Linked DNA regions of Homo sapiens. The protein of the gene in region 1 interacts with the protein of each later gene in a pairwise test. Each region holds a gene or a part of one and is shown in the gene's direction. Other genes may lie near its edges. The genes, in order: SLC30A8, DERL1, SYS1 and FAM210B.

Region 1 (7,729 bases):
CAAGAAAATGCAGTGTATATACACAATGGAATACTATTCAGCTATGAAAAAGAATGAAATCCTGTTATTTGCAGAAACATGGATGGAACTGGAGGACATTATGCTAAGTAAAATCAGCCAGGAAATGAAAGTTAAACACCACATGTTTTGGCTCATATGTGGGAGCTAAAAACAAATTGTTCTCATAGAAGTGAAAAGTAGAACAGATAGCAGAGGGAGGGAAGGGGAAGAGTAGGATAGGGAGAGAGTTGTTAAAGGATGCAAAATTACAATGAGATAGCAGGAATAAGCTCTAGTGTTCTATAGCACTACAGAATGACAAGAATATAGTTAACAATAATATATAGTTCCAAATAGCTAGAAGGAAGATATTGAACATTCCCAATACAACGAAATAATAAATGTATGAGATGATGAATTTGTCAGTTACCCTCATCTGATCACTATGAATTATCTGTATGGCAACAGCACTGCATGTCCCATACATATGTACAATTATCATGTCAATTTAAAACTGTTTAAAATTTAAAAATAAGGTTTATTGGAGACCTGAGGTACTTGATTATATTTACAAGGTGATTTATCATTGCTACATTGGCCATTTGTCGTTAACAAATGATATTATTTTCTATCTTACATTCCAGGAAAACAGGTATTATGAAGGACTTGCCTAAAACCCTTATTAGACTAACCCAGCAGTTCTCAAACTTTAGTGGCATCAGAATCACGTGGAGGGTTTATTGAAACACAGATATCTGAGCCCACTCCCACAATTCTTGAGTCAGTATATCTTATTGGGGAGTAGGAGGAGCAAGAATTTGAATTTCTAACAAGATGCTGGTGCTGCTGGTCCCAGGACAACACTTCAGGAACCACTGGACTAATCTTTTAGTACCACTGAAGGGATTCCCACATGCTGGCCCTGGGAATGGCACCTGTAAAATTCAGTGAGAGCTAGAAGTTTGCATCATATCAAACATCCAGATGATTGAAATATCCAGACATTAGCTGATTTTTTTTTTTTTTTTTTTTGTCCAGCACATTTTGACATAAGGTAGATCTGGTCTCAGAGTGCAGTTGCCTTCAGTGACAGCTCACACTTCGTTAGTGTTCACTGCTAAGTATACATTTAAAGGTTTGTTCTTGGTGGTCACTATAATTGTTGAAAGATAATAGTGTTGACAACAGTGAAATGGATAACGGAGTCAAATGTCACAGAGTAATAGTGAATTTTCTGTCTCTAAACATGAGAATATTTGGTTTGTCAAGCCACAGAAGCATCCATTTTCTTTCCTGAGTGCCGAATGCTGAGCTGCAGCTGTTGTTGCTATTATGGAAGTTATTGACTTAAAGAAAGATAAAAGACAAGTTGGTGTACAATTTGAAATGACTTATATTCCGCTTTTCTTTGTGTGTCTCGCTATAGCTCTTCCCTGGTGATTATCTTTCTTATTTTACTTCAGGAAAAGTGCAGAGACTGGACTACGTCAGCTAGTTATAGAAACTGGCAGATAACTCCTTTCTGGAAGACACTTAATTTTTAAATTAGGTTTTCAAACTATGTTAGTATAGTACTTAGTAAAATTTAAAAATAATACAGAAAAGTATGAAATAATTTTAAAAAGTCTCCTTATAATTCCGTCTTTGACTTCTCAGTCCTATTCTTCAGGGATAATACCTGTTAATAAGTTGACATTTATCTTTCCAAAGATATTTGTGCATTTGCATATATATATATACATACATACATGTATATGTATATGTGTATGTGATGTAAGTGTGTACCTTTTTTTATAAAAATGGGATTACATATTGATTCACATTTTTTCTCTGCACCTGGCATTTTTCATTTGGAGATCTTTTATATTAGCACATACATAGATATACCCCATTCTTCTTCACAGCTGTAATTACTCCACAGCATGGAAGTACTTGCTTGTGATTGACATTATAAACAATGATGTAATTACTATAAACAATGATGTAATTACCACCCTTGTACATATATATTTTTAGCACTTGTATATCTGTGGAATAATTCCTAGAAGTGATATTGCTGTTTCAAAACTTACATGCTTTATTAGTATGTTTTTTCACTGCTCATAAAGACATACCTGAGACTGGGTAATTATAAAGAACAAGAGGTTTAATGGACTCACCGTTTCACATGGCTGAGGAGGCCTCACAATCATGGCAGAAGGCAAAGGAGGAGCAAAGTCACTCCTTACATAGCAGCAGGCAAGAGAGCTTTTTCAGGAGAACTCCCATTTGTAAAACCATCAGATCTGTGAGACTTATTCACTACCAGGAGAACGGTATGGGGGAACTGCCCCCATGATTCAATTATCTTCACCTGGCCCCCACCCTTGACACGTGGGGATCATTACAATTAAAAGTGAGATTTGGGTGAGATTTGGGTGGGGACACAGCCAAACTATATCACATGCATTTCAAAATTTGATAGATATTACCATTTCTACCAAAGATACAGTATCAATTTCTTTCCCCTCAACAGCATATGAAAGTGCCCCTTTCCTCACATCATCACAACCACTGAGTATTATCAAACTAACTGTTCATTCTTTTCTACTCTAATAGGTGAAATATTATATCTTATTGATTTCAAATGCAATTATTTAATTATGAATGATCAGTGGTTTTTCAAATACATTTATAAGTCTGGGAAGTTATTTATTAAACACTAATTTAGATATTTTCCTGGATGCATTAATATTTTTTCAGACTCCCCCCCAAGTAAAAGAAAGTTCTAGGATGTGATGGAGCATTGAGTCCAGTGGGGCCATGCCTCTTGCCTGGCAACACTATTTGTTATAATAAAATAAGTCATGGTGGACCTATGTTCTCTATAATAGTAATGAGATGAAGGAGACAAGTGAAAAAAGGGTAGTGGGATCATGACTTAATTTCAAAGGGCCTAGATGAATGATAGCAAGTCTTCAAATGGTCAACAGAACTTCCCCAAAGAGATGACACACATTAGGCATAACAGACAGTGTTTTGATTGCAATTCCTAGACTCTAGTATTTGCGTAACACTTTATACTCAGAGCACAGACATTGGGATCTGATATCCCTGGTTCTGCCACTTCTCTGTGTGGCCTTAGCAATGTTCCTTAATCTAACTGACCTCAATTTCCTCTTCTCTAGTTAAATAAGAATTGTAACCTTAATAACTAGCTTCTAAAGTTTTTAGGACTATTAAATGAGATAATTGCTATATATAAAGTACTTTGCACAAACTTTACACATAGTGGGCCCTCAATAAAAGTTTGTTATTATTATTATGACAATTTTACCCATGACTTTATTCACATTGTATGGCTAATTTGAGACAAGAACTCCTTTCATCTGCTTCTAGGAGCCTAGGTCTTTTGCCACTCATAGAGTAAAATAGCATGATAACCAGCTCTTTGTTACTTCCCCAAACAATATGAGGTAGGATCAAAAACTCAGCTCATGCTGTAGGGAATTTTGAGTTAACTCCAAGGAGGAAATCCCCCATGAGCAAGGTTCTTAGCCCATTTTTTGCCGAGTGTTCCATTATTGGAATGCTAAGCATGTGAGAGTTATTTATATCCTGCTCAAGGTCATTGCCAAGGTCTGATTGCAAAAATTCAAAAAATTGCAACCCCAGGCATAAATGGGTTAAATTTTTCAAAAGGAGGGTTAAGGGTTCCCCATTTCTTTAAGTAGATGTTTCTCAGTTCTAGCTGTTCATTATAATCCTCTGGGAAGCTTTTAAACAATGCTTATGCTCAGGCCTCCCATACCCAGTGTTATTAGGCTGTTCTCACATTGCTATAAAGAAATACCTGAGACTGGATAATTTATAAAGAAAATAAGGTTAATTGGCTCATGGTTCTGCAGGCTGTACAGGAAGCATGGTGGCATTTGCTTCTGGGGAGGCCTCAAGAAGCTTCCAATAGCGGCAAAAGGCAAAGGGGGAGAAGGCACGTCACATGATGGGAATGGAGCAAGGGCAAGGGAGGTGCTACACACTTTTAAATGACCAAATCTTGCAAGAACTCACTCATCATCGCAAAGACAGCACCAAGCCATGAGGGATCTGGCACCATGACCCAAACACCTCCCACCAGGCCCCATTTCCAGCATTAGGGATTACAATTCAACATGAGACACTGGCAAGGATAAATATGCAAACTATATCACCCAGAGATTCTGATTTAATTGTCTGGGGTTGGGGCTGGCTTTGGTATTTTTAAAAACATGTAGTCAGACTAGAGAACCACTGCAAAGCAGAGCTGCTCAGTGGCTCATGAATGTTGGTGCAGTGGTTCTCAATCTTGGCTGCCTGATAGAATCACCAAATGAGCATTGATGTTGGGCCTTATCCACAGAGATTCTGATTTAATTGGTCTTGGGTGTAACTTAGTCATCAGGATTTCTAAAATCTCCTCTGGTAATACTAATGTGCATCCAAGGTTGAAAACCACTCTGAAAGACTCTAGATTTTGGAGCTTCATCCATAGAAATTTCCTTTTAGGTCTGGAATGGAGTCGTGGTACATTTATTTTTAATAAACACCCCAGGTGTTTGTGTTGTTTGTACATAACTGAAGTAGAGGCTAAAAAAGGGCTGTACTTAGACATCTCTTCTACAGCATCCTCCAATGTAGCTAAAATAATAGAAAACTTACAAACCGAATAAGATGGTATTATACAATGTTAGGATCCTCTATTAGCACAGTTCACTAAATGACCTGTTGAGTAACTAATCTTTGTACAACATTGCTGTTCATAATGATTAGATATTTTCTGAATTGCTCCTCAAAGATCTCTGTGATCTATGTGTTGTTCTTAACACCCTTATTTTACTACAAATGTGCTGAGGGTCAGAGAAGTTCTGGGATTTGGGTAAATTCACAATAGTTGTCGTCAGGATGCTAACCCATGATTATTTGATACCAAATTTCATGTTATTTCATTTTACTTTCCAGAGTGTATATAAAGATAGTTGGAAAAGGCACAGTTAGTTTAATAGTATACCATAAAAACTAAGGATAATTACCATTGTTGGTTATTGCATAGTAAATTCTGCAAGTATTCTGAGTGGGAAATTTTGATTGATGGTAAACCTTGAAGTAGTCAGGTAAATCTTATTTGTAAACATTTGAAGTAAGAAACCAGCAAAGGGATGAACACATTGAAATTTTGGTGAGGACTTTGCAGCTTGTTTAGGTAATTCAATGAGCTGTATCTAGTTGAATAACTACAGCCTCCATCTCTTCCCTTTTGTCAGGTGTGCCAAAGAGCCTGAATTACAGTGGTGTGAAAGAGCTTATTTTAGCAGTCGACGGGGTGCTGTCTGTGCACAGCCTGCACATCTGGTCTCTAACAATGAATCAAGTAATTCTCTCAGCTCATGTTGCTACAGGTCAGTGAGTTTTGTAAACACCCTGGAAAAAATTCAGTCCTTGTCCTGTAAAGTCAGTAATTTCCCTTCTTTTTGTAGAGCTGCCCTTATTGTCTGTTGCTTGTCAAAACATTATAAAGTGTTTTCTATTACCAAGGGCCTTTGAAACCAGCCCACTTATTGATGTTGTCATAGCAACAATGATACCCACGACATTCTTGGGGCTGACTGCAGAGGGCTGAGGACAGACAGAACAAAGGACTAAAATGCACCCGCCACTTCAAGGCCTTGGACTCTGAATATTCAACTTCATCTGTTTGGCTTGGTGCCCTATCAGTCAAATAATAGGAATGAATTAAAAACTTAATCTTAATTGAGTATCTCCTATGTATAAGATGTTTTTCCTGGCACTGAAAATAGGAAGATGAAAGAGACACCAGCCCCACTCTTAAATTTCTAACAAGCTAATGGATGTGCTAATAGGAATTATGGTGGGGTCCCACACTGTATGATTAGAAATTCTGTAGCCATGTGAGAAAATTCTTATAATACTAGGTTTATACTAAAATTACTTTTTCAAGAAGTTAATTTTGTCTCTGATATGTCCTAGAGCTGGGAGGATAGGCAGTGGGAGGGCATTTACTGCCTCAAGAGAAAGCTCAGGCCAAGGATAACACATTAGGCTGCTAAAAAATGACTCAAGGAGTTACTTAGGGGCAGGGGACAGGAACACTAGTGACAGTCATTTGAAAACTGTGCTTTCTCAGACATCGTCATCTTCTCGAAGGGGCTTAGGTCTGACTTGAGGGAATTTACAGCATTCACTATGCCAATATTTCACTGCAAATGGAAGAATCTAGTAAACACTCAGGTTGCTATGGAGGAGACTTTACAGCCTGCTGATAGCATTTGGGACAGGAAAAAAATGGCAGTGAGGGTTGCTGCTCTAAGAAAGGTCTGTGGGGAGCTCTAAACGCTTCCTGGTTCCTGTCACTATCCTTGATATAAATTCTGATTACATACAAAGCCTGCAACCCAGAGATCCCTGGGAGCTGGTGAGCAGGGCTGTATAAGAAATAATAGTTCTGTCTTGGCTTTTTCCAGGGCTTGTCTCCCCTTCCATAGTAAGCTCCTAGGAATGCCAGACTCCAGAGATAACAGTGGACAGAAAGAGTTCCCATAGCGACAGGGCACTTTGCTGCACTAGAGTTTCCCCTGCCTTGTCTGTGTGAATGTAGCTGATTATCAGAGCAAACGTGGCTTCCTCTGAGTGCCCTGCCTCTGCCCCACCCCAGCAGGTCAAAGACAAAGTACTTGAAGTTGGAGTCAGAGCAGTCGCCCATGCGTGTGCAATCAGTGCTAATCTCCCTGTGCTTCTTTATCAACAGCAGCCAGCCGGGACAGCCAAGTGGTTCGGAGAGAAATTGCTAAAGCCCTTAGCAAAAGCTTTACGATGCACTCACTCACCATTCAGATGGAATCTCCAGTTGACCAGGACCCCGACTGCCTTTTCTGTGAAGACCCCTGTGACTAGCTCAGTCACACCGTCAGTTTCCCAAATTTGACAGGCCACCTTCAAACATGCTGCTATGCAGTTTCTGCATCATAGAAAATAAGGAACCAAAGGAAGAAATTCATGTCATGGTGCAATGCACATTTTATCTATTTATTTAGTTCCATTCACCATGAAGGAAGAGGCACTGAGATCCATCAATCAATTGGATTATATACTGATCAGTAGCTGTGTTCAATTGCAGGAATGTGTATATAGATTATTCCTGAGTGGAGCCGAAGTAACAGCTGTTTGTAACTATCGGCAATACCAAATTCATCTCCCTTCCAATAATGCATCTTGAGAACACATAGGTAAATTTGAACTCAGGAAAGTCTTACTAGAAATCAGTGGAAGGGACAAATAGTCACAAAATTTTACCAAAACATTAGAAACAAAAAATAAGGAGAGCCAAGTCAGGAATAAAAGTGACTCTGTATGCTAACGCCACATTAGAACTTGGTTCTCTCACCAAGCTGTAATGTGATTTTTTTTTCTACTCTGAATTGGAAATATGTATGAATATACAGAGAAGTGCTTACAACTAATTTTTATTTACTTGTCACATTTTGGCAATAAATCCCTCTTATTTCTAAATTCTAACTTGTTTATTTCAAAACTTTATATAATCACTGTTCAAAAGGAAATATTTTCACCTACCAGAGTGCTTAAACACTGGCACCAGCCAAAGAATGTGGTTGTAGAGACCCAGAAGTCTTCAAGAACAGCCGACAAAAACATTCGAGTTGACCCCACCAAGTTGTTGCCACAGATAATTTAGATA
Region 2 (7,729 bases), 5.9 Mb from region 1:
TAGTTGAGCCTTGTAGGTCATGTTAAGAGGTTTGAACTTTATTTTGAGGGCACTATGAAGTCTTTGGAGCCTTGTGAACAAAGGACTGACAGATTGCCCCGACTATTCTGTGGAGTGGACTTTGTGTGTGTATGGAGGGGGTTGAAGGAGGAAGGGCTAGGTGATGAGATCAGAGAGATGAATCCAGTTAGGAGGCCAGAGAGATGGTGGTTTGGATCAGTGTGGCTGTGAAGATAGAGAAAAGGGCATAGACTTGGCAGAGGGGACGAGATTACAGCCGAATGGATATAAAGAGTGAATGGGTGAAGCGAGCAGGACTGAAAGATACTACTGTTTTCACAGGAGCAGCTGAGTGGATGGCGGAGCCCTTGACTGAGATGGGGAATGGTCAGGGATACCTGGGTTGGGAGTGGGGGCTGGTATGGATGAAGAGTTAGGTTTTGGCTGTGCTAAGTCTTGAGATGCTTTTCAGGCATCCATGTGGCGAGGCCAAGGGAGCAGTTGGATATAAAAACATGACTCTGGAGTGCAGCTGGAATTGCATACTGTTCTGTGTTTATTACTTTACTAAATATTTGTTGGCTGAGAGAATGTTGTGTACTTTGTCCCTGGTGGCTTGTTGGGTAATGTGTGGTCATGGGGAGCAATGGTGGCATATTAATGTGTGAGAAGGACCTGGTCAAAACCGGCTTGTTGTCCCTGTTAGCAAAATCCTCACTTGTGTAGTGACACTAGTGACTACACGATGTAAATAAGCACATTGTAAAGAAGCAATGTAAATAAGCCTAACAGGCTGCGGGTGTATAAGGTTAAAAGTGGTGAACTGATTAAAAAGAGTAATCGTTCTTGTCACATCTTCCACAATTTTGTCATCTTCCCTGTATTATTTCTTCTCAGCTGCCAGCAGGAGGCAGGACAGTGTACTGCCCAGGTGTGAAAAGACCAACAGCTGTACCTTGTCTTTTCTTCCTGTTACTCTGATTCTTGCCTATTTTGGACACATGTAACTTTCAGACCCACCTGGAGGAACTCATTTGCAAATGAAGCAGTCAAGGAAAAACTGCATTTGAGAGGCTGCTGTGCACGGACAGTGTGCGGTGTGCTTTAGCAGAGTTCTGCTAGAAAGTTCCTTTTTTCCTTAGAAGCTGAATCTTTCACAACTTACAAAAATGGGGGAGTGATTGATTTAGAATTGTGTGCTCATGTTGGAAGTGACAAGTTATTTTTCCTCCTCAGCTCTAGATTCTTGTGTGTAGCTTGTTGGTTTAGAACGCTGAGGTTTATAATGTTATTTCTTTAGTTTGGATAGGTTGAAACAGGTGTGTGTTAAGACTCATTATACTGTTGTCTACGATTTCTCCCTATTCTGAGTCCCTCAGATTTATGTTCATCAATCAAATAGTTCACAATAATGAAATGTCTTCATATTAATCGTTGATTAACTACACAAGAGGTGGCAATTCCTGCTGCCTTTGTGTTTTCTAAGGTTATGTCTCCCAGGGCCGCCTGCATGGCTATATTTCTTCATTTCTTTGGACAAAATAACATCACCCTGTTACAACTTCCCTGAGGTCATGTCACTGAACTCTGACAGTCATCCTGAGATAAGTGTTACCCCCATTTTGTAGACAGCTTCAGTTTCAGTTTCTATTTCGTTGAGTCAAGGATAGTTCTAAGCTGTTTTGTTTAACTCCTTTGCATAATATCTACGAAAAAAATAAGTATGTAGCAAAACATTTTTGAAGGTGATTTCTTCCAAATCAATCATAGCAAATTGTTTTTCCTTTTCTATTCGAGTAGAAAGGCTGTTAGATTTCAAGTAGTTGAATCATGGTCTCAAGGCCTGGCTCAGTCCCCTGCTAGTTGTGTACCCTTAGGCAAGTTATTTATCCTGTCTGAGCCTCAATTTCTTTAGGATCTGAGGATAATATCATAGCATATTAACTTTGTTCTAAGACTCCATTGATTATACGATGCACCATCAATTTAATGCAACTTTTTTGGGGGACAGGGGAGTAGAAATTACATTCAACGAGTGTATTGATTGTAAGACACTCTAATTTCAGAAACACAGGAACGAGTACCTTCAAATTGAGGAAATATGTTATCTACTTCTTGCCTCTAGTATGTAGAACACATAGAAAAATGTTTGTAATACCCAATAAGTAGCCTGATAAATAAGCTATTCAAAAATAGTTGCCTCCTACGTGGTTGGTATGGGAAAAAAAATAGTTGCCAATTTTTATTTATCAGCCAATACTTTATGCCTTATTTCCTTCTCTCCTGGACAGTAAGATTCTAATTTTAATTAGTAATTGCAATTGAAATGTAACTGCTGGATGATTATTCTGCTTTGTCTTCTTAAAAGCATCCTGACTTGAAATGGGAAGATGTGAACTCTTGATTTCTCTAATTTATTTCCAGGAATAAGAAATGGTACCAACCAATTCTGTGACTCAGCCTTGTGCTTATATTTGCCAAGCTTTTGCTTATATATCACATTTAACCTGATGACAGCAACCTTAGGAGACTGATTTAAGGGTGTATTGGGGAAGAGAGACGTTTCAACATAGCAGGGAGGAGAATGAACTTGGACTATAGGCTGAGCATAGAAGTTCTATATCCATCAAGGTTTGGCTATAGAACTCTAGTGGCAAGTGTTCTGGTACGTAATTTAAGATCTTTCCTTAGTAGTCCTGTCCATGTTGAACAGTTCTGCTGTGTTCTGTAATAATGTTGCCCATTAGATTGTGGCTTTTTAAAAAACTTTTTATTGAGTTACAATATACAAGCAGGAAAGTGTATGTATAATAAGTTTATAGCTTGAGTTTTTAAAAATTCAAAACATGTATACAGCCAGCATTCAGATCAAGAAACAGAATCTCTAAAAGCTTTCTCCTGCTTCCTTCTGGTCACTGTCCTCTCTAAGGGTGACTATGCTCTTGATTTTTAATACCATGTATTGTTGTTGCCAGTTTTTATGCTTTTTATAGGTGGAATTATGAAGTATGTTCTCTTTTGTGTCTACCTGCTTTTATCAACATTATGAGAGTCACCCATATTGTTGCATGTGGTTATAGGTTGCTCATTATGGGACCATACCACAATTTATTTACTCATTCAGCTATTAATGGACCTTTTGGGCAGTTTCCAGTTTGGCTATTATGAATGGTGCTGCTATGAACATTCTAATACATGTCTTGGTGAACATATGTACTTCTTGGTGAGGAGAAATAGTAATTTCTGTTGCCTATATATCTAGGAGTAGATTTGATGGCTTCTAATTGCTCTTTTTAAAGATTAAGTGCCTTTCATTTGTTTAAATGAATGGAAGGGGCCTTTTCTTGCCTACCCGTTGTGTCTCCCCACCCAGCAAAAAAGGCCACAGTTTACTAAACTAGCATTTGTCACACAGGTGCTCATCATCTTTCTTGCTTGGTGACTGATATATACTTAAGTCCGAATCAAGTGATCCTTATTATTTCAGACAAATCCTCACTTTTCATACTTTAAAAAAAAAAACACTAGATTCTGGATGGCAAATTATTTCAGTAGCAGATTGTTTAGAAGATTTTAGCTAAAGGATGGCTGCAACCTACACTCTGAAGTTGTTGGACTAATAACTGAGGAACAATGTCTTATGTCTTCTTTAAGGGTGTATATAGCAGTGAGCACATGGGCTACATGTCCTTGTTAAGTGAGGAACTCTAATTAGGGCCCAGCTTTCCTCCTGAAAAAACTGGGATCATTATGGGCCTGGCCTTGAGGTTGCTGTGGACTTAAAATGAGATACTCCCCCACGAGTCCTCTCAGTAAGTGTGAGGCAGGCAGTCCTCTGTCTGCAAGTCGTGGCTCTTTGTGCTGCAGTTGGCTGCCTCTTAGGCTTTCCAGGGTTGAAAATGGGCCTCTTCACTCCTGGCACTGAACGTAAAGCCAGTTCCTTCTCCTTACTGTTTACATATCAGGTCGAGGAAAAAATGGGATTTAGTTGGATACTTACAATGGGGATTTCCGAAATATGTTACACTGTGTCCTTCTAAAGAGATAAGCTGTCTTCTGGTGTTTTCAGATTATAATTTTAAAGTAACACAAAAATAATATTAAGTCTTTTAGATCAATGAAAGCAAGTATAACTCAAGGGTAGGCTTAATGAACAGGGAAAAGAAGTGAGATATTTTGACAGACACTGATTTCCAAAGAACAGGTGCAAACAGTGACTAAAAATAGTCTTATGTCATCAGCATTAGAGAAAATGTAGTCAGACAAAAACAAGGTTTCTTTTCCAAAACCAGGCCTTGAGTAACTTATAGGAATATGGGGGTAGTTGAAATATGAATTTATAAAAACTGGTTAGCGGGTGTTTCCGAAAAGATTGTGATAATACAATTAACACACCCACACATATTAATTCTTTTTGCATAGTATCTTTTTAATTCACTTTCTTAATTCCAACCTTTTACAAATCCTGTAAGATAAGGAAGGCAGAAGTCATAGGATAATGTCATTGGGTAGATGATGAAGCCAATTTGACGTCCATACTTTTCCAAGGGTCCAGGGCTACCTAGAGGGTTTGCTTCTGGTCTTTACTCCCAGTCCTTTTCTTAAGCACAGAGAATTAATTAGTAGGTTTACTCTGAGTCTATTTCAGGATTACACAAGTGTCTGTAGTAGTGAACACTTACACTAATTGTAATTGTACCTCATAATACTGACGCCATTTGTGAGAGGGATTGTAAAAATAGGGGCTTAGTATCACAAACTCTGGAGTCAGACTGTCTGGGATAAAATTCTAGCTTCACCACTTACTGGCTGATACTTAACCTTTTCTCATCCTGTTTCCTCATCTATGAAATCCGTCTCCTGAATCAGTGCGTGTAAATAAGCTGAGTAGCACATTAATTTATTGATTTCTTTAAAAAAATTAACTATGGAAATTGAGGCTCGGAAGTGGTGACTTATAAGCAAAAACTTAAACCCAGGTCTTCTCAAGTCATCTCCAGTTCCCTTTCCACTAAACTATCCTGTTTCTGTGATAAAGTTGTGAATGAATCAAACCAAATGTTAAACTATTTTATTTTTCTGGTTTAATACACGTTTCTTGGAAAGTCACTTTTTTGGTATGCACATTGCATTTCCCTCTACAAGGAATTAAGCTCTGAGGGTTACATTCCTGTACTTGGAGAATGGAACTGGCCAGTCTGTATGTGGCCAGTCCCCGTGACTGACGTCCTCCATTCCAGCCACACTTGAATTGTTAGCAGTACCCATTCAGTTATTGTGCTCTTGCAATTCTTGGGGCCTTTGTAACAAGTCCACATGTCCCCTCCCTTGTGCCAACCCTTTCTTCCTTTGACAGCCTTCCCCACTACTCTGAGGAATTCAGGGGCCATGTCTTTTGTGCTTGGTACATGCTAGTGTGCAATGAGATAGACACATATCTCTCACACCAAAAGCCAGCATTTTGCTGCCATTTCCAAAAGTTTAGGAAGGCCATCTGCTTCAATCACTATTTAGCATTGTTCTGGTGGGGGTGCCAGCCAGTGAATTAGACAAGAATGAAATAAGATACAAAAGTTTATTTACAGCTAGGGTTGTATGCTTGGAAAGCCCAAGAAGCTCAATTTTCTTTTTTGTTAAGACATAGTTTCGCTCTTGTTGCCCAGGCTGGAGTGCAGTGTTGTGATCTCGGCTCACTGCAACCTCTGCCTCCTGGATTCAAGCGATTCTCCTGCCTCAGCCTCCCGAGTAGCTGGGATTACAGGCATGTGCCACCACGCCCGGCTAATTTTGTGTTTTTAGTAGAGACAAGGTTTCTCCACCTTGGTCAGCCTGGTCTCGAACTCCCGACCTCAGGTGATCTGCCCACCTCGGCCTCCCAAAGTGCTGGGATTACAGGCATGAGCCACTACTCCCGGCCGAAGCTCAATTTTCAATATTGTAGGCAGTAAGATACTCAGCTTTTGTGGTTAAGTATAAAAAGGTAGAAAGAGATAGCTCTATAGACAACTCTAAAAGCTATGAAAAACTTCTTGGCTGGGAATTATATCAATATCACATGGATATAATAAAAGAATGGTTCTAATTCATTTAGAAAAATAAAATATTGAGACTAACCAAGAAAATTGTGACAATTGTTGAAGAAAAAAAGGGGGAGATATTATTTAGCTGTTTAACTTTACCAGCTATTAAAATATGTTATAAAAGGAATAGAAACTAGGCTAGGCCCAGTGGCTCATGCCTATAATTTCAGCACTTTGGGAGGCTGAGGTGGGAGCATCATTTGAGGCTGGTAGTTTGAGAGCAGTCTGGACAACATAGGAAGAGCCCGTCTCAAAAAACAAACAAACAAAATTACCAGGTGTGATGGTACATGCCTGTAGTCCTAGCCACTTGGGAGGCTGAGTGGAGAATTGCTTGAACCCAGAAATTTGAGGTTACAGTGAGCTGTGGTCAAAACACTGCGCTCCAGCCTGAGCAACAGACTGAGACCTTGTCTCAAAAAAAAAAAAAAAAAAGAAAATAGAAATTAAAATAACTTGATATTGGCATAGGAACCAATTCCAAACAGAATGGTGTTAAAATAGACCTACATGTAAAAGAGACTAGAGTATAAACGTTCAATGAAAGTAGTTTTTCAAATAATTGGAAAAAATGTGGGTTACTCTGTAAATGGGGTTGGGAAAACTGGGTGACTATTTAGAAAAACAGTTGGATCTCTTCCTCATTCCTTGGATGCACCTTGAAAGTGCTAAAATAAAACCATGAACACTTACATTCTTGGAGCGAAAAGACTTTCTAAACATGACACATCATGGATACATATGCCTACATTTAATTAAACTTTTGTATGTCAAAATATGGCAAAAACACCATGAAAGTCTAATGACATCAGAAAATGCTTGCAATGATGAGAAAGAGAAATTTCATAATGTATGAGGAAATGCAGCCAGGTGCGATGGCTCATGCCTGTAATCCCAGCACTTTGGGAGGCCAGGACAGGTGGATTGCTTGAGCTCAGGAATTTGAGACCAGCCTGGGCAACATCAGGAGACCCTGTATCTACAAAAAATATAAAAATTAGCCAGGTGTGGTGGTGCATGCTGGTAGTCCCAGCTACTTGGGAGGCTGAGGTGGGAGAATCACCTGAGTCCAGGAGGTGGAGGTTGTAGTGAGCTAGGATCATGCCACTGCACTCCAGCCTGGGCATCAGAGCAAGATCCTATCTCGGGGGGGAAAAAAAAAATGTAAATCCAGAAAAACAAATGAATAAAGGAAATGCTCAGGTTTTTAAAACGTGAAAAGGTGCTTGACTTCTCATAATGCAAATAAAAATTAGTTTTCAGATTGGTGAATATATAATACATGAAATGGTGAGAGTATGGAGAGAAGACAGGATTCATCTACTTTTTAGGAGGAAGTATAAATTGAGCAAACATTTTTGTAGGCATTTGGCAGTATCTACCAAAATAAATGGTTATGTCTGTTGCTCTAGCAGATTTATTGACAGGAACTTATTCTGTATATGCACATATAAAGAGGATATACAAGAATATTCATTGTGGCATTGTAACAGTTTAAACAAAAGTTTAGACATTCACATACAAGGAATACTATGAAGCCAATTAAAATATTTTGTAGGGAATGAACCAAGGTATAAAACAGTGCCGTATAGAGTAGGATAAAGAAGAATGAGTAATAGTAACATGTATTTCTTAGAGGAAATACAAGA
Region 3 (8,704 bases), on another chromosome or scaffold:
ACAGGGTTTCTCCATGTTGGCCAGGCTGGCCGCCAACTCCTGATTGCAGGTGGATCCACCCACCTCAGCCTCCCAAAGTGTTGGAATTACAGGCATGAACCACCTTGCCTGGCCTTCAGTGCGCTTTTTGTTACACACTGAGAAGGAATAGTGTGTGGAGTCAAACTGGCCTGGGTTGGAGTTCAGCTCTACCACTCACTGGCAGCATGGCTCTGGGTAAATGTCCCTTCTCTGAGCCTCAGGATCTGCATGTGTTCAGTGGGGCTATTAATAGTTCTCAACTCACAGGCTTGTTTTAGAAATTAAATAAGGATTAAATTATATAAGTGCCTGTCATACAGTAGATGCTCAGCAAATATTCCTCCCCAAACACAGACACAAACAGCACTTAAAGCAACCTGGGTAACAAAGGGGTTTTCGGTCTGGAGGAGAAACCAGGCAGCTAATGAGCTCTCTCTCCAGTTTTCCTTCTAAGAGAGGAACTCACTGGCCAGAGCCCAGGATGGTCACCGATGTAGAGGACAGGCAGCCAACTCCAAGCCTCCCACGTGGGGTTTCCAAAAACCTGTGAGCACAGAGTTGCATAACGTGTCCCTGAGACACGTGTTTCTACTGAAGTGTCTTCATCAAATATTCCCTGAAAGGAAACATGTGAGCAGGGCAGTAGGGCAGCCTAGCGGGGGAGGAAGGGAGAGGGGGAGGAAGGGAGAGAGGGAGGGATCTAGAGAACACGACAGTAGGGGTGAGAGGAGGAAGAGAAGGTATCACATTTAATGTGCTCTTACTATGGGCCAGCCACCGGGCTTGACTTGTCTGATACATTGTTAGATCCTTGCCATAAATCTGAGATCAGGCATTTCCGTTCCCACATTCCAGAGGAAGAAATAATAACAATCATATTAACATTGCTGAGGTTAACATAGTGCCCACTGCATATCAGGCAGTGGACTAAGCACACATTTGACCCTCAGGACAGCCCATAACATGGGTACTATTCTGAACTCCACTTTATAGAAGAGGAAACCAACTGAGACTCAGAGACATGAAGTAACTTTCCCAAGGTCACCCAGCAGGACAGCAAGACAGCCAGAGAGCCAGGATTCGAATCTAAGCAGGGCTCTCAAGCCTATGGGCCTATGGGAGAACATTTCCCAAGGGATTTATGGGGGTGGATCCAGAAGGTGACCTTAGCGATTGTCCTTACATGCATGCAGTGGGGCCCCAGTGTGAAAGTGACGAAAGAGACCAAGTGACCAGAGGCACTCCCCTCCCCTCCACCCAAAGGACAGTTTGTCCCAGCTTGTGGCTTTTCGTCACTCTGCCTCTGACCTGAAGTTTAACATTTCATTCATAAGTTTGGAACCACAGACTTGGCAGCGTAGGAAGAACCCTCGTAGACCAGCTAGCTATTCAAATCCAATCCCCTCATATTACAGATGGAAGAAAACCCTGAAGCCGGAATGTGACTCGCCAAGGTCACAGAGCAGTTTTCTGTTGGATGAAGGAGCCGGTTTAGGGTCAACTACAGATCATCTTGTGCTGTAGTTATCAAATGTGGGTGCACCTCTGAATCACTTGGGGAGCTCTCTAAATACACAGATTTCCACACTCTGCTTTGGGAGACTTGAACTGGACTTAGGTTTGCAAACAAGGACTGGAAATTTGAATATCCAGTATGTTCCTCAGGTGATTCAGATGGCACAGGGCCATGACAGCATCTGCAAGTCGGAGTCCAATGTCCCTCTTTCATTTGATAGTTTGGGATACTGGGACCCACCAGGGGACTCGCCCAAGGTCACATAGCAAGCCAGTGGGGCTCTAGTTCAGACTCTGTGGTCTGAAGCAGACTGCTTGTGGTCAAATTTGAAAATGGGCCAATGAAGCTAAACAAAGGGGTTGCCATGATTTTCCCCAGCTCTTGGTTTCCTTCTTGGATCCAAATTAAGACGGAGGATGATGTACATTTCCGAAGCTTGGCAAGGCGGGAATCCAAGAACTGAACTCCCAAAGGGGAAAGGAAAGGGCAGGAGGTTAGCTTGCACGCCCAGTGGGGTTTTCCCAGAGGTGAGCTCCGGACTCCAGGGATGACATCAGACATTCCAGCCAGCCCTAATATCAAAAGCTACCTGTGTTTTCTAGTTCAGCAGAATGGGTAGGCAGGGCCTTTCCTATTGGGAGGAGATGGGGTGGAGTGGGCCCAGCTGTGACGTGAAGGGAGCAGAGCCCAGGAAGAGCCACGCATTCCAGCATCTGCAAGGAAGACAGCTGCCCTGGGTATTGTCAACCTCTGCAGCCCTTTTCTAAGCCTTTCCTCCCATTTCTCCCTAATCCCTCACCCCAGGGCTAACTGAGCAGAGAGATTCACTGCCCCTTTTCCACTTCCTGCTACTCCACCACCTATTTTACTATCTCCCTTCCTTTATTTCCCTCTCCCTCCCTCCCTTCCTCCCTTCTTTCCTGTTCTTTTATTCTAAAATGGCATCTTGGCTGGACACAGCGGCTTATGCCTGTAATCCTAACACTTTGGGAGGCCAAGGTGGGAGGATTGCTTGAGCCCAGGGTTCAGGACCAGCCTGGACAACATAGGGATACCCTGTCTCTACAAAAAAATAAAATTAAATGAAAAATCAAAAAAGCCAAGTGCGGGCCAGGCATGGTGACTCATGCCTATAATCCCAGCACTTTGGGAGGCTGAGGCGGGCAGATCACTTGAGGTCAGGAGTCCAGACCAGCCTGGCCACAATGGTGAAATCCCATCTCTACTAAAAATACAAAAATTAGCTGGGCATGGTGGCACACACCTGTAATCCCAGCTACTCAGGAGGCTGAGGCATGAGAATCGCTCGAACCCGGGAGGCGGAGGTTGCAGTGAGCCAAGATCATGCCACTGCACCCCAGCCTGAGCGACAGAGCAAGACTCCGTTTCAAAAAAAGCCAGGTGTGGTGGCACATGCCTGTGGTCTCAGCTATTCGGGAGGCCGAGGCTTGGGCCTGGGAGTTTGAGGGTGCAGTGAGCCATGATTGCGCCACTGCAAACCAGCATGGGTGACAGATTGAGACCCTGTTTCAAAGAACCAAACTAAACCAAACCAAAACTAAACTAAAAGTCATCTTGATGTTTGGAGTCAGTTGTCCTGAATTTGAATCTCAGCTCTGCTCCCTGTGAGCTCTCTGACCTAGAGAGTCACACCACCTCCCCCCAAGCCTAGTTTCCTCCCCTATAAAAAGGGGACAATAGCTATATTTTCAGATTGTGAGAATTAAACAAGATCATGTAGGCACTTAAGAAACAGATGTTTTCTCAGAAACACTAGATCATGTGCATAATCAGTGAACTAGAGGAATTTGAATACATATTTGTTGGACTGAATTGAGGTGCCTAAAAGAATGGTTGAGCTGGAAAGCACCTAAGAAATCTTTGGGCCTTAATAACTCCCCAACTGGAGTCCAGGGGAACTGTTCAGGGTATTTCCAAATGATAAGGACAATCGCACACTCTCAATAAAGTCTCAAGTTTCTTTACTTTTGTCTGGAATTGTATCAGCTCAAGGTGATAACACGGCTACCACAAGCTGTTCAGAAATTCTGATTGGCAGTTACATGGCTCTTTGATACGTTTTTTTTTTTTTTTTTTTGAGACGGAGTCTCGCTCTGTCGCCCAGGCTGGACTGCAGTGGCGCAATCTCGGCTCACTGCAAGCTTCGCCTCCCAGGTTCACGCCATTCTCCTGTCTCAGCCTCCCGAGTAGCTGGGACTACATGCGCCTGCCACCAGGCCCGGCTAATTTTCTGTATTTTTAATAGAGATGGGGTTTCACCATGTTAGCCAGGATGGTCTTGAACTCCTGACCTTGTGATCTGCCCGCCTCAGCCTCCCAAAGTGCTGGGATTACAGGCATGAGCCACTGTGCCCAGCCTAAGTTTTTTTTTTAATGAGAAAATAATTACTGGAAGGTAGATTAAATGGTGGAAAACGTTAATCATGTCCAACTCCTCATTTCATAAACAGGGAAGCTGAGGTTTAAAGAAGGAAGTGGCTTGCTGGTCACACTGGGTGGCATAGCTGGCCCTAAAACCCAAATTCTTTTCCTGGAACAACTTACTTCCCGTCTTTCCACTTCAGAGAGGGGGAACCTAGGATCAATGAAGTTGATGGGTTTTCGTCTGCTGGAGTAGGAATAAGTGAGTTATCGATTTGCTCTTGCTTTTTCTGTTCTTAACTCATTCAGCAAATATTTACTGACTGTCCACTATTCGGATTTGGAAGATAGATAAAACAGTCATGGCAGCAGAGAGGGTCAGGATTTACTCCTATGTGCGACTTCAGAACCTGTGCCTTTTTCCACTGGACACCCACATTTTAAAACACCCACTACTCTGCCTTCTAATATAGTTCATCTGTGTCTCAGGGCAGGGGCTGTCTTATATATACATGTTCTAGCCTTCCTGCCACCGAGTAGGTGCGAAATCAATGTTGTAGTGTTGAGGAAACACTTGAATTTTATTTATTTATTTATTTATTTATTTATTTATTTAGAGACGGAGTTTTGCTCTTGTTGCCCAGGCTGGAGTGCAATGGCGTGATCTCGGCTCACTGCAACCTCTGCCTCCCGGGTTCAAGCAATTCTCCTGGCTCAGCCTCCCGAGTAGCTAGGACTACAGGCGTGCGCCACCACGCCCCGCTAATTTTGTATTTTTAGCAGAGACGGGGTTTCTCCATGTTGGTCAGGCTGGTCTCGAAACACCGACCTCAGGTAATCCGCCCACCTCAGCCTCCCAAAGTGCTGGGATTACAGGCGTGAGCCACCGCGCCCGACCAACACTTGAATTTTAATACTTACTTTGCTACTAACTGTGTCGTTGAAACAGTATGTTGCTTTCCTTCTCTGGCCCTTAGCTTAACTATCTGTACAGCGGGAACATTGGCAAACTCCTACGTGGAGGAGCTTGCAGGTCCACTTCAAGTTATCAGACTCTAACTAGGAGAAAACATTGAGAATTTAGGCTGAAAATAACGACACAGTTTATCACCTCGTTAATTCCCAAACATCATTACCGCGTCCTAAGCCACCCCACTTGCCTCTCCCCTAGCCGCCTTCCTTTAAAAAAAGAATTCCCCTCTAGAGGGCGCGCAAGCTCTGCGGCCTTCGTTCCTCTCTTCCGTTTGCCTTCACTCTTCCTTCTGCGCATGTGCTCAGTTCGCTATCCGGCTGCTTGTACCTGGTTCAGGAGGTTCAGGCAGAGGTTGCACCCACTACGCCTGCGCAACCTCAGCCCCGCCCCTCCGCTGCTTTCCCCGGAAACGTTTCTTTCCTACGCAGCCGCTCCTGCCGCCGTGGTCGCTGGAGCTTTGCCTCTCTAGGCCGGCAGCGCCTCTCCTCCATGGTCCTGTCTGTCAGCGCTGTTTTGGGAGCCCGCCGGTGAGGCCGGGCCACGCTCAGACACTTCGATCGTCGAGTCTGTCACTGGTGAGTAGACCCCAGAGGAGCTCGTGTACGGGCGGGGGCCGCGCAGGCGGAATGGGCTGGATTTCCCCTCACTCTGAGAATGGGTCTGTCTGCCCCGCCTTCCCCCTGACTCTTGGAATGGGCTCACCCCTTGGTTCCAGTCCCTCCTCCCGGGCGGGGCGACGTTGCCATGGAGACAGGCCGCTGGCTGAGGCCCGGCTCGTGTCCCTGCAGGGCATGGCGGGTCAGTTCCGCAGCTACGTGTGGGACCCGCTGCTGATCCTGTCGCAGATCGTCCTCATGCAGACCGTGTATTACGGCTCGCTGGGCCTGTGGCTGGCGCTGGTGGACGGGCTAGTGCGAAGCAGCCCCTCGCTGGACCAGATGTTCGACGCCGAGGTAGGGTCCCCGGACTGGGGCGGGTGGGGTCTCGGCCTCCCCGAGTAGGCTTTGTGGTCCATCACTACTGTGCTGTAGACGTGGCTGGGTCACCTTCTTTCTTTGTAGCCCTGGGAAAGGGATTTCACCTTTCTGAGCCTCAGCTGCCTCATCCATAAAATGGAATGACAGCAGAGGCTGATTAGTACAAAGAAAAGGGCCTGGATGTTAATACAATAAACACGTCTGTGTTCCAGGCAACTCTGATACATTTCCTTTCTGATACTCTGGGAAAGTGACTTGATTTCTCTGAGCTAGGTTCTCAGGTGCCACATCGGAGAGAGGGGTGGATAAAAGAGCATTCGTGCGGGTACAGTGGAAACTGCCTGGACTTTGGGGTCAGACAGGCGTCCGTTTAAGATCCACTTACTAGCTGTGTGACCTGGGGCAAATGTCACCTCTGTGAACTTGTTTTCCTGTCTTCAAAACCATGAGACTAGTTGCAGAGAGGTCGTGGACTGCAATATAAAGAGCATGTGCTTTGGGTTCAGAAAAGCAAGGGTTCAGTCTAGGCCTAAACATATAAAACTAGCTGTGGGACCTTGGGCAAGTTGCTTCCCCTTTCTGAGCCTTTTCTGAAAAGTGGGCCGGATGCTCCTACCATGTTGCCCTCAACAAAATGTTACAAGGCCCAGAGGGGTTTAGGAATAAGAAGGTACTTTGTAAAGTGTAAAGGAGGCCTATAAGTTGTTACATCTAAGAGGCAGCTGTGGCGTGGTGATGAGCACAGTTCTTTTTTTTTTTTTTTTTTTTTTTTGAGACGGAGTCTCCCTCTGTCGCCCAGGCTGGAGTGCAGTGGCAGGATCTCGGCTCACTGCAAGCTCCGCCTCCCGGGTTCACGCCATTCTCCTGCCTCAGCCTCCCAAGTAGCTGGGACTACAGGCGCCCGCCACTACGCCCGGCTAATTTTTTGTATTTTTAGTAGAGACGGGGTTTCACCGTTTTAGCCGGGATGGTCTCGATCTCCTGACCTCGTGATCCGCCTGCCTCGGCCTCCCAAAGTGCTGGGATTACAGGCGTGAGCCACCGCGCCCGGCCGAGCACAGTTCTTAAAGCCAGGAGACCTGGGATGGAGTCCTTGCTCCTGCTGCTTGTTCTCTGTGTTAGCCCTTGGGCAAGTTATTATCCAAAAAGTGATAAGAATTAAAAGAAGAAGAATGGCTTTGTGAGGTTTTTTTAGGGATAATATGAGATTATGTATGTCAAAGACCTTTCTTTGTCAGCTGAAAGTGTGGTGCAGATGTTTGGCATTTGATAGTATTGTGTTGGATAGTGGAGGTTGCACACCCACCATATGCCTAGTTGTAGTCTCGTAGGAGACTCTATGCTCCTGGGAAGAGCTGTGGGAATGCCAGGCTTTGTTGAAGAGCCATATGATGCACACAACCTGAGTTCTAGCCTAGGGATCAGCAAACCTTTCCTTTAAGGGTGAAGTAGTAAGGATTTTAGGTCACAATTATTCAGCTCTGCCATTGTAGCACAGAAGGCTGCTATAGACAAATATATAAGTGAATAGGTGTGGCTGTGTTTCAATAAAACCTTATGTACAGGAGCAGATGCCAGGCCTATGGAGCCATAGTCAGCTGAACGCTGTTCTAGACTTTACTCTTGTTGTTTATTACTTTGGGCAACTTAACTTGTCTGAGTTTTTACGTCCTCCTTTGTAAAATGAGAATAATCCCTTTCCACCTGCTGTGAGAAACAAATGAAATCCCATAATGGATGTCTATGAAAGCACCTATTGGAAATAGGCTGCCGTACAGATGTAGGGAGGTATTATCTTCTGTGCTCTGGGAAGAATGCTTGTTCCTTAGGAGGCTTGCTGAGATCCTGGGGCTCTGCCAAGTCACTTCTCCAGTATATTTCCATTTGTGATTCCCCCTCAGATCCTGGGCTTTTCCACCCCTCCAGGCCGGCTCTCCATGATGTCCTTCATCCTCAACGCCCTCACCTGGTGAGTATCACCAGTTTTGCTATCCAGCTTTTGGGCTCTTAGTGCTGGGACTAACTTCCTAAGTTTGAACATGAGACAGGCTGGCACTTGTTTCTGGGGAGTGGTGGAGTAAAGTGGGTGACAGAGGCCAGTTCTGGGACCAGCTGTATAATGGGCCTCCTTCCATTGCTGTTTTGACTTACCTGGAAAGCTCTTATGTCACTATGTTTGTGCTGCCTGCAAGACAACTTCCATCTCAGATAACTTCCCTGATGTGGAGTGAGCTGAGAAAGGATTCGACCGAGAGGCAGGAGAACTGGGTTCTGTTCTTGGTTTGTGTGCCATTGGCCAAGTTACTTGCCATGGGCCTCAGGCTCCTCTTTTGTCCATGAGGGTTTGGACTCAGTGATGTCTAAGGTCACACGTAATCATTGCCTGTCTCTTAAGAGGCAGTTTAGCATAGTGGTCAAGGTGTCAGGCTCTGGAGGCAGACTCATTTGGCATTGAACCTCAGCTTTACTACTAGTCTAGTGACTTTGGACAAGTTAATCTACCACAGTTGCCTCATCAGTAAAATGGGGCTAGTAATATTACCTACCTCATAGTTGTAAGGATTAAATAAGTTAATTCACAAGAAGGACTTAGAACAGTGCCTTGCATGTTATTATTATTCTTGTCCTTACACCGGAGGTTGAAAACTGGTGGGCTGACTTTGACCTAAATTTGTCTTCCAGATAGGTTCTATTTGGCTTACATAGATGTCAGCCCACACATGGTGTTTAAAACATTTTTTTCACTTAGTTGAAAATCAGGCTATTTTATATAAAAATCCAGATTTCTGGCTTCTCTTGAATAATGGAATGACTGACTGATTCCAGGCCAACCTT
Region 4 (7,681 bases), on another chromosome or scaffold:
TTGCTTGAGCCTTGGTGGTTGAGGTTGCAGTGAGCCATGATCATGCCACTGCACTCTAGCCTGGACAACAAAGAAAGACTCTGTCTCAGAAAAAAAAAAAATAGAAGGACACTGTTAAATAGGCAGTAAAAATCACCATGACAACTCAAGGGAGAGAGATTACGAAAAGAAGAAAACAGCTTCATATTTTAATACCTTGAAAGGCACTTCTTGCCTGCTTTTTTAATTATTATTTTTTATTTTACTATTTTATTTTATTTTGAGACTGGGTCTCACTGTCGCCCAGGCTGGAGTGCAGGGGTGTGATCATAGTTCACTGCAATCTCTGCCTCCTGGGCTCAAGCAATCCTTCCACTTCAGCCTCCGGAGTAGCTGTCACTATAGGCGCTGTCACCCCTGAGACAGCAAGAACAACCTTTCCTCTTCCTTTTCCTCCTCAGCCAGCTCAATGCAAAGATGACAAGGATGAAGACCTTTTTTTTTTTTCTTAAGATGGAGTTTCACTCTTGTTGCCCAGGCTGGAGTGCAGTGGCACGATCTCGGCTCACCACAACCTCCGCCTCTTGGGTTCAAGGGGCCTCAACCTCCTCCTCAACCTCCTGCCTCAACCTCCTGAGTAGCTGGGATTACAGGCATGTACCACCACACCCGGCTAATTTTTTGTATTTTTAGTAGAGACTGAGATTCACCATGTTGGCCAGGCGGGCCTCGAACTTCTGACCTCAGGTGATCAGCCTGCCTTGGCCTTCCAAAGTGCTGAGATTACAGGCGTGAGCCACCGCGCCTGGCCTTATATGGCTGCCTTTAATGTCAGATTCTCAAGTTAAGATCATAAAAGTCAGTCCTACATTTCTCTGCTAAAGACACCATTTAGAGTCGGGGTAAATAGACACTCTTGGCCAGGCGCAGTGGCTCATGCCTGTAAGTCCAGCACTTTGGGAGGCCGAGGCGGGCGGATCACCTGAGGCCAGGAGTTTGAGACCAGCCTGGCCAACATGGTGAAACCCCGTCTCTACTAAAAATACAAAAATTAGCCAGGCGTGGTGGTGCACTCCTGAGGTCCCAGCTACTCAGGAGGCTGAGGCAGGAGGATCACTTGAGCTTGGGAGACAGAGGCTGCAGTGAGCTGAGATCACACCACTGCACTCCAGCCTGGGTGACAGAGCAAGATTCCATCTCAAAACAAACAAACAAACAAAAAACTCTCATTTGCTGTACTCTGCAACCTTTATGGAGTGAAATTTTGCCATTTATTCAAATTTACAAATACACATATCTTCTCACTAAGCAATTTCACTTTGAGGAATTTATTACACAGGCATACTTAAACACGGCAAGTGACAGAAATACCCGCTGGTTCATCACAGCATGGTTTATGATCACAAGGACTGGAAAATACCCTAAATACCCTAATGGTCCACCCACAAGGGATTGGTTAAAGCATTACAGCACCCTGGAATACACTGGAATGCTAAGCAGATTTTAAGAATAAGGAAGATTTTTGTGTACATATTCAGAAAACTCTAAAATATAATGGAAGCAAAAAAAGTCCAGGTGAAGAACACTGTGTATACTATGCCCCACTTGGGTAAAAACAGCAATGAAAACCGTTCATAGGAATTTGCCTGCACACATGTAAAATTTTCTAGAAGGATATGCACAAGCAACGGGTAACAGTGTTTGTCTCTAGGGAGAAAAAAATGAGGAGAACTGGTCACTGGGATAGGAAGGAAGCTTGTCATTGTGTAGACTTTTTGTACCTTTAAAAATCTGAACCGTGAGAACACATTATCTATTCATGAAAATGAAGAAATTAAAATAAATATAGTTCATGCATGAGCTGCTGCTCTAGAGAGACAAAGAGAGCTGACACAATAAGAAAAAAACAAAACTGTCACAAGTTCAGGCAGGCAGCAGCTCCAATACATTTTGTTAAAAGCAAAAGTTTCTTCACTTTTAGAAGAAGAAAAAAAGAACCTAAAGTCTATAATTACAGTATTATATTTACTGTCAAATTTAAAGGGAAAAACAAAATTACCTTTTTCTCTTCTCTAATAAGCATATAGCATGAATCACAAACTCAACTGCCCATGAAGCCTGGGCAGGAAACTTAAATGAATGAAGAAGGCCTGGTGACAAGAAAATCACGGGCGCTTTGGGAGGCCGAGGCAGGAGGATCACGAGGTCAGGAGATCGAGACCATCCTGGCTAACATAGTGAAACCCCGTCTCTACTAAAAATACAAAAAATTAGCCAGGCGTGGTGGCGGGCGCCTGTAGTCCCAGCTACTTGGGAGGCTGAGGCAGGAGAATGGCATGAACCCGGGAGGCTGAGGTTGCAGTGAGCTGAGACCGCGCCACTGCACTCCAGCCTGGGCGACAAAGCGAGACTCCATCTCCAAAAAAAAAAAAAAAAGAAAGAAAATCATGGGAACCATGAGGAAGTCGAGATCAGATGCCATCTGGAGGTGGCACTGTCACCGGGTGACAGAGGGGCTTCAGGCAAGGCATCTCTACAACATCCCAGCTAACGTGTGTGCCCTCTCTGTGCACCAGGCACTGAGTGAAGCCCTTTCCAAGAACTGTGTCAAAGAATTATCTCAACAATCTCATGGGGGAAACTATTATTATCTTCATTTTACACATGAAAAGACCAAGGCTCAGAGAAGTTGAGTCACTACTTCCAAATCACACAGCTGGACTTCTAGGGCCAACCTGACAGACAATCTGCACCCTTAAGCACTCTTCCCCAGCTTCTTGCAGACACTTAAATGGAAGGATTCCCATCCAGGGGCACTTTAGGACCTCCCTCCAACAGACCCTGTTACTTTCACAGCTATAACTCCATCTTATGTAATAAATATTTTTTAATGCATATGTGTTTAATATCATTTCTGTGCCTGTGTAAGAGCTTGGTTGAGTTGAATTGCAGTTGACTAATAGAATATTACATCTTTTGTAAAATATATTTCTTTTTCTTTTTCTAGAGAGACAGGGTCTCGCTCTGTCACCCAGGCTGGAGTGCAGTAGCACCATCGTGGCTCCCTGAAACCTGGACCTCCTGAGCTCAAGCAATTCTGCGTCAGCCTCCCGAGTAGTTGGGACTACAGGTGCATGCCACCACACCAGGCTAATTTATTTTTATTTTTGTAGTGACAGGGTTTCGCTATGTTGCTCAGGCTGGTCTTGAACTCCTGAGCTCAAGTAATCCTCCCACCTCAGCCTCCCAACGTGCTTGGATTATAGGCATGAGCCATTCCACCCAGCCAGAACATCTTTATTGAAGTATAATTTACACAGCATAAAATTCATCCATGTTAAGTGTACAGTCCCACGAGTTTTAGTTACACAGCTGTCACCATCCCTACAATCTGGGTTTAGGATCCTTCCCTCACCCCAAGACGTTCCTCCCACTCCTTGGCAGTCAATCTCATTTCCCACTCCCAGCCCTAGGCCACCACGGATCTGTTTTAGGTCTCTGTGATTTTGCCTATTCTGGGCACTTCATGTAGCTGGAATCCTCCAGTGTGTGACTTTTGTGCCTAGATTTTTTCAATTGGCATAAGAGCTTTGAGATTCATTTATGTTGTGCATGTATCAGTAGTCTGTTCCCTTTAATTGTTGCATTGCGTCCCATTGAAGACTTGTGCCACAGTACGTCCCAGTTTATGGGCATTCCTAATTGTTGACTAATATTTATAAGATCTCTACAAACATTGGTGTCTTCACATTTTAGTCTTTGAGTGTCGAGCCTTTGTTTCTCTTGAGAAGCTACCGAGGAGTGGAGTTGCTGGGTTGTATGGTTAGTGTATGTCTAACTTTTCAAGAAACTGCCACACCATCTTTCGCTTTACATTCACGCCAACAATCTATGAGGGTCAGAGGACTTTTTATTAAACATGTACTAATATCAATTCTCATATTTATTTTCTTCTTTGGAGCTAACACGTAAACATATCTATAATTTTTTTTCAGATTTCACCCATTTCTGCAGGGAGAAAAGCTCATAAGCCACGGCCCTACGCCCACCTTTGTGCCCGCAGAATAAGGAAACCCGCCAACTACACACCACAGTTAGAAAGCCCAAGACCCTGAAAAGACCTGCACCCACCCCCAAAGGGGCGGGGCTGGTGGGCGGAGAGGAGGCGGGGCGCGCTCCTTCAGCCCCGCCCACCAGCCCTGGACTCCGGCTCCCGAGGAGCGGAGCTAGCGGGTGAGCCAAGGGGATGTGCACAGGCCTCCTCAGTCCCGCCCAGCGCGCGCGCGCGGCGGCGAAGCCGGCGGGCGGGGCCGGGGAGGGCCCTCGCCGGGTCAGCTCCGCCCACCCTCCCCGGCCTCCGCCCGCCTCCCGGGTCAGCGGCGCGGGTGCTGCGCCTAGCTGCGCACCATGGCCGGGTTGCTGGCGTTGCTGGGTCCGGCAGGCAGGGTGGGCGCCCGGGTCCGGCCTCGCGCCACCTGGCTCCTGGGCGCCACCGCCCCCTGCGCCCCGCCGCCCCTGGCCCTGGCCCTGCTCCCGCCCAGGCTAGACGCCCGGCTGCTCCGCACGGCGCGCGGGGACTGCCGCGGCCACCAGGTAAGCACCCCACCCCGACCCTGATCCCGGGCGGTGTCCAGGTCCCCAGACGTCCGCAGGGCCGCGCCGGGGTCCGGCCGCCTCCGCCAAGGACGCCTTTGCACTTGTAGCTGCCCGGGACCGAGCTCTTCCAGGGTCCCCGAAACCCCAAATCCCTGCAAGCCAAGGAAGCGATCCTCCTAGTTGACAGCCAGAGAAACTGAGGCTCGGGAAGGTGTGGCGCTCTGCCCAAGGTCGCGCAGTCTTCGGCCGAGCCCCGGGTCTGCAGAGCCTCAGCCAGGCTGGGGCGCAGCCGACTGACTTGGTCTGAACTTCCACACGTTGCCTGCGGAGTTGTTGTCCAGGCCTTCTGGCTGGGTCTCGCTGTGTTTTGAACACCTCCCGACGCTCGCTGCTCCTCCCTTTTCTTCTGAGTGGAAGAGCAGGCGTCCTCAGGGAAGCCGCGGGCAAGAAACCCACAGTGCTGTTTGTTATGTTTCATTTCCGTCACTTTCCATTGGTGCTAAGTGAAAACTGGTTTTCCTTCAGAGCAGTCATACCAGCTTTCCTTTCAAGAAATCTATCACTTTCTTCCAAGTGAGTCTTTTTAAATAAAAATAGTAGTAAATGAAGTCTGGCGGTCCAGGAATGGCAAGCCCAGACACGCGGAGCCGGCGTCCAGCCCGGAGCGCATCCGGCCTGGCAGTCTGGAGCCTCTTTGTTTGCCTGGGTGCAGACAGGGCCCCTCCATTCATCGCCCGGTGACCTCAGACCGAGTCCTGAAGGCTTTTGAGCTTGTTTTCTGACCTTTAGAGGGCCAAAAATAGCACCTTCCCAGCAAGAGTTTGGGAGACAACTCCATGAGCTGGTGCAGGCCTCAGCGGAGTGCCGCCGGCCCAGCGAACATCTCCTGACCGTTTCCTAGCTTTTCAGTAAGGAGCGGATGGGGATTGGACCCAGGCTTTCATCATGCCTCCTGCCCAGATCAACTTCCTTCCTTGCCTTCTCCAGTCCGACAGGTGGCACACAGGTCTTGGGGATCCTCTCCAGAGTGGCACCTTCTGCACACACCGTGCCGCCTCCTGATGATTCTTCAGGGCCCAGCCCAGCTGTTCCTTCCTCCGGGAAGCCCTCTCTAACGACCTGTGAGGTCTCGGATGCCTCCACTGGGCCTGCTTCCACCCCATGGCTGTGGGTCTTCTCTGCACTCATCTGGAATGGCCTCTTGTCCTGCCTGTCAGCCACATTGACCTTGTCCCCAGCTCAGGCCCTGGCACTGGAGCGGTGTGTGTGTATACAGTGGCAAAGAGTTGGCCTCAGACTCCCTGGATTCCTCTCTCTACTCACTTGTTGTTGACTTTGATCAAATTCCCTTCTCTCTATCTCAGGCCCCTCATCTGTAAAATGGGACGTTAATAATTCAGACTTCATAGAATATGAATGTAAAATGAGATATGTTCATACCTGGCATCTGGTGTGTCCTAAATTAAGGTTAGAAATGACTATAATTGCAGTAAATATATACAGTCACAAGGCCCCAGGGCCCCGTGAGCTGTCCTTGTTTCTTCTGCACCGTGGTAAAATCGGCAGAAACCCAAGTGGGATCAGAACCTCAAAGGAGATTAGGACAAAAGATAACTCATCTGCCTGAGAAAACGCGTCCCCAGCAGGGCCTGGGAGCAGTGCAGGGAGGGTCTGGGCTTGGCCAGAGCCCAGAACCTCCCCTGTCGTCTGTTCTGGCCGCCCACCCTCGTCGGGAGGTAGGAGTGTGCTGCCCAGCTGGGCTCTCCAAATTTGCCAGGTGTTTAATTAAGAGCCAAAGAGGCCCACCCACGCTGCCTTGGCAGGGGGTCTCTGTAAGAGGGGTAGGGAAAGCCACAGAAGAGACCTGCCTTTTTGTCTTAACATGATTCCATGTCCTGTAAACCGCCTAGCAGCCCCGCCTGCCTGTGCCACTTATTCCTTCCAGGGACGTAGGGGGAGTTCAGGCAGATGACTTGCTCTCCCAGAGCCCCAGTGTCCTTTTGTCTCCGTCAGTTCTGGTTCCAGTGGCACCTTTTCAGGGAGACCTTCCCTGATGGCCTTATTTAACATTCCTCCTACTCCCTGTCTCCCGCCCCATTGGTGTTTCTCTATGGCACTTGTCACAGGTAGCAGCCCTGGTATTTTACTCTTCTGTTTATTGTCCCTGCCTTCCCATAAGACCATAAGCTCATCGAGGGTGGGGTTTTGTCAGTTTTTTCCATTGCTCTGTCCCCTACACTGAGAACAGTGCCTGGCACAGAGGAGACACTCATGAATACACGAGGAGTAACATAGCATGGTTGTTCAGAGCAAAGGCCCTGGACCCAGACTCAGCGAGTTTGGATCCCAGCTCTGACAGTAATCCCTGTGTGATCCTTGGTAAATTACTCAACCTCTCTGGGCTTCTCAGATCCTCTTCTGTTAAGTGGGGTTGACAGTAGTCAAGGTTGTTGTGAGGATTATATGCATTAATATTTCCTTTTTTTAAAATTAGAGATGAGGCCGGGCGCGGTGGCTCACGCCTGTAATCCCAGCACTTTGGGAGGCCAAGGTGGGTGGATCACCTGACGTCAGAAGCTCGAGACCAGCCTGGCTAACATAATGAAGCCCCGTCTCTACTAAAAATACAAATATTAGCCGGGCATAGTGGCACGTGCCTGTAGTCCCAGCTTCTCGGGAGGCTGAGGCAGGAGAATCGCTTGAACCCGGGAGGCGGAGGTTGCAGTGAGCCAAGGTCGTATCACTCCACTCCAGCCTGGACGACAGAGCACGAATCTGTCTCAAAAATATAAAATAATAAAATAAAAGATATGTTGGCCAGCTTGGTCTTGAACTTCTGGCCTCAAGCAATCCTCCTACACCTCAGCTTCCCAAAGTGTTAGGATTACAAGCATGAGTCACCGTGCCCAGCCAATATTTTCAAAGTACTCAGAACAGTGCCTAGTACAGAATATACACAATATAGTGTTTATTATTAATATGATTTCTCAAGTGGAAGAAAACAGGTGTCACTCCAAACACTGCGATCGGCTTGGCAAGGTCCTTGGCTCATTCTTTAAACCTTCCTACCCCCTCTCTATTACAGGTTTTTGTACTTTAAAAAATG

What was found.
Region 2: the proteins of SLC30A8 (region 1) and DERL1 interact in binary tests that used the Homo sapiens proteins (3 or more experiments, as listed by UniProt).
Region 3: the proteins of SLC30A8 (region 1) and SYS1 interact in binary tests that used the Homo sapiens proteins (3 or more experiments, as listed by UniProt).
Region 4: the proteins of SLC30A8 (region 1) and FAM210B interact in binary tests that used the Homo sapiens proteins (3 or more experiments, as listed by UniProt).

The regions. Positions count from the first base shown.
Region 1 is NC_000008.11:117,165,755-117,173,483, forward strand, and holds part of SLC30A8 (proton-coupled zinc antiporter SLC30A8), read left to right. Parts: intron 1-5,279; coding exon 5,280-5,414; intron 5,415-6,781; coding exon 6,782-6,927; 3' UTR 6,928-7,729. UniProt on the Homo sapiens protein: Proton-coupled zinc ion antiporter mediating the entry of zinc into the lumen of pancreatic beta cell secretory granules, thereby regulating insulin secretion.
Region 2 is NC_000008.11:123,031,650-123,039,378, reverse strand, and holds part of DERL1 (derlin-1), read left to right. Parts: intron 1-7,729. UniProt on the Homo sapiens protein: Functional component of endoplasmic reticulum-associated degradation (ERAD) for misfolded lumenal proteins. Forms homotetramers which encircle a large channel traversing the endoplasmic reticulum (ER) membrane.
Region 3 is NC_000020.11:45,357,849-45,366,552, forward strand, and holds the start of SYS1 (protein SYS1 homolog), read left to right. Parts: upstream 1-5,307; 5' UTR 5,308-5,467; exon of another isoform or gene 5,468-5,520; intron 5,521-5,680; 5' UTR 5,681-5,683; coding exon 5,684-5,845; intron 5,846-7,770; coding exon 7,771-7,838; intron 7,839-8,704. UniProt on the Homo sapiens protein: Involved in protein trafficking. May serve as a receptor for ARFRP1.
Region 4 is NC_000020.11:56,354,620-56,362,300, forward strand, and holds the start of FAM210B (protein FAM210B, mitochondrial), read left to right. Parts: upstream 1-4,354; 5' UTR 4,355-4,386; coding exon 4,387-4,572; intron 4,573-7,681. UniProt on the Homo sapiens protein: Plays a role in erythroid differentiation. Involved in cell proliferation and tumor cell growth suppression. Involved in the metabolic reprogramming of cancer cells in a PDK4-dependent manner.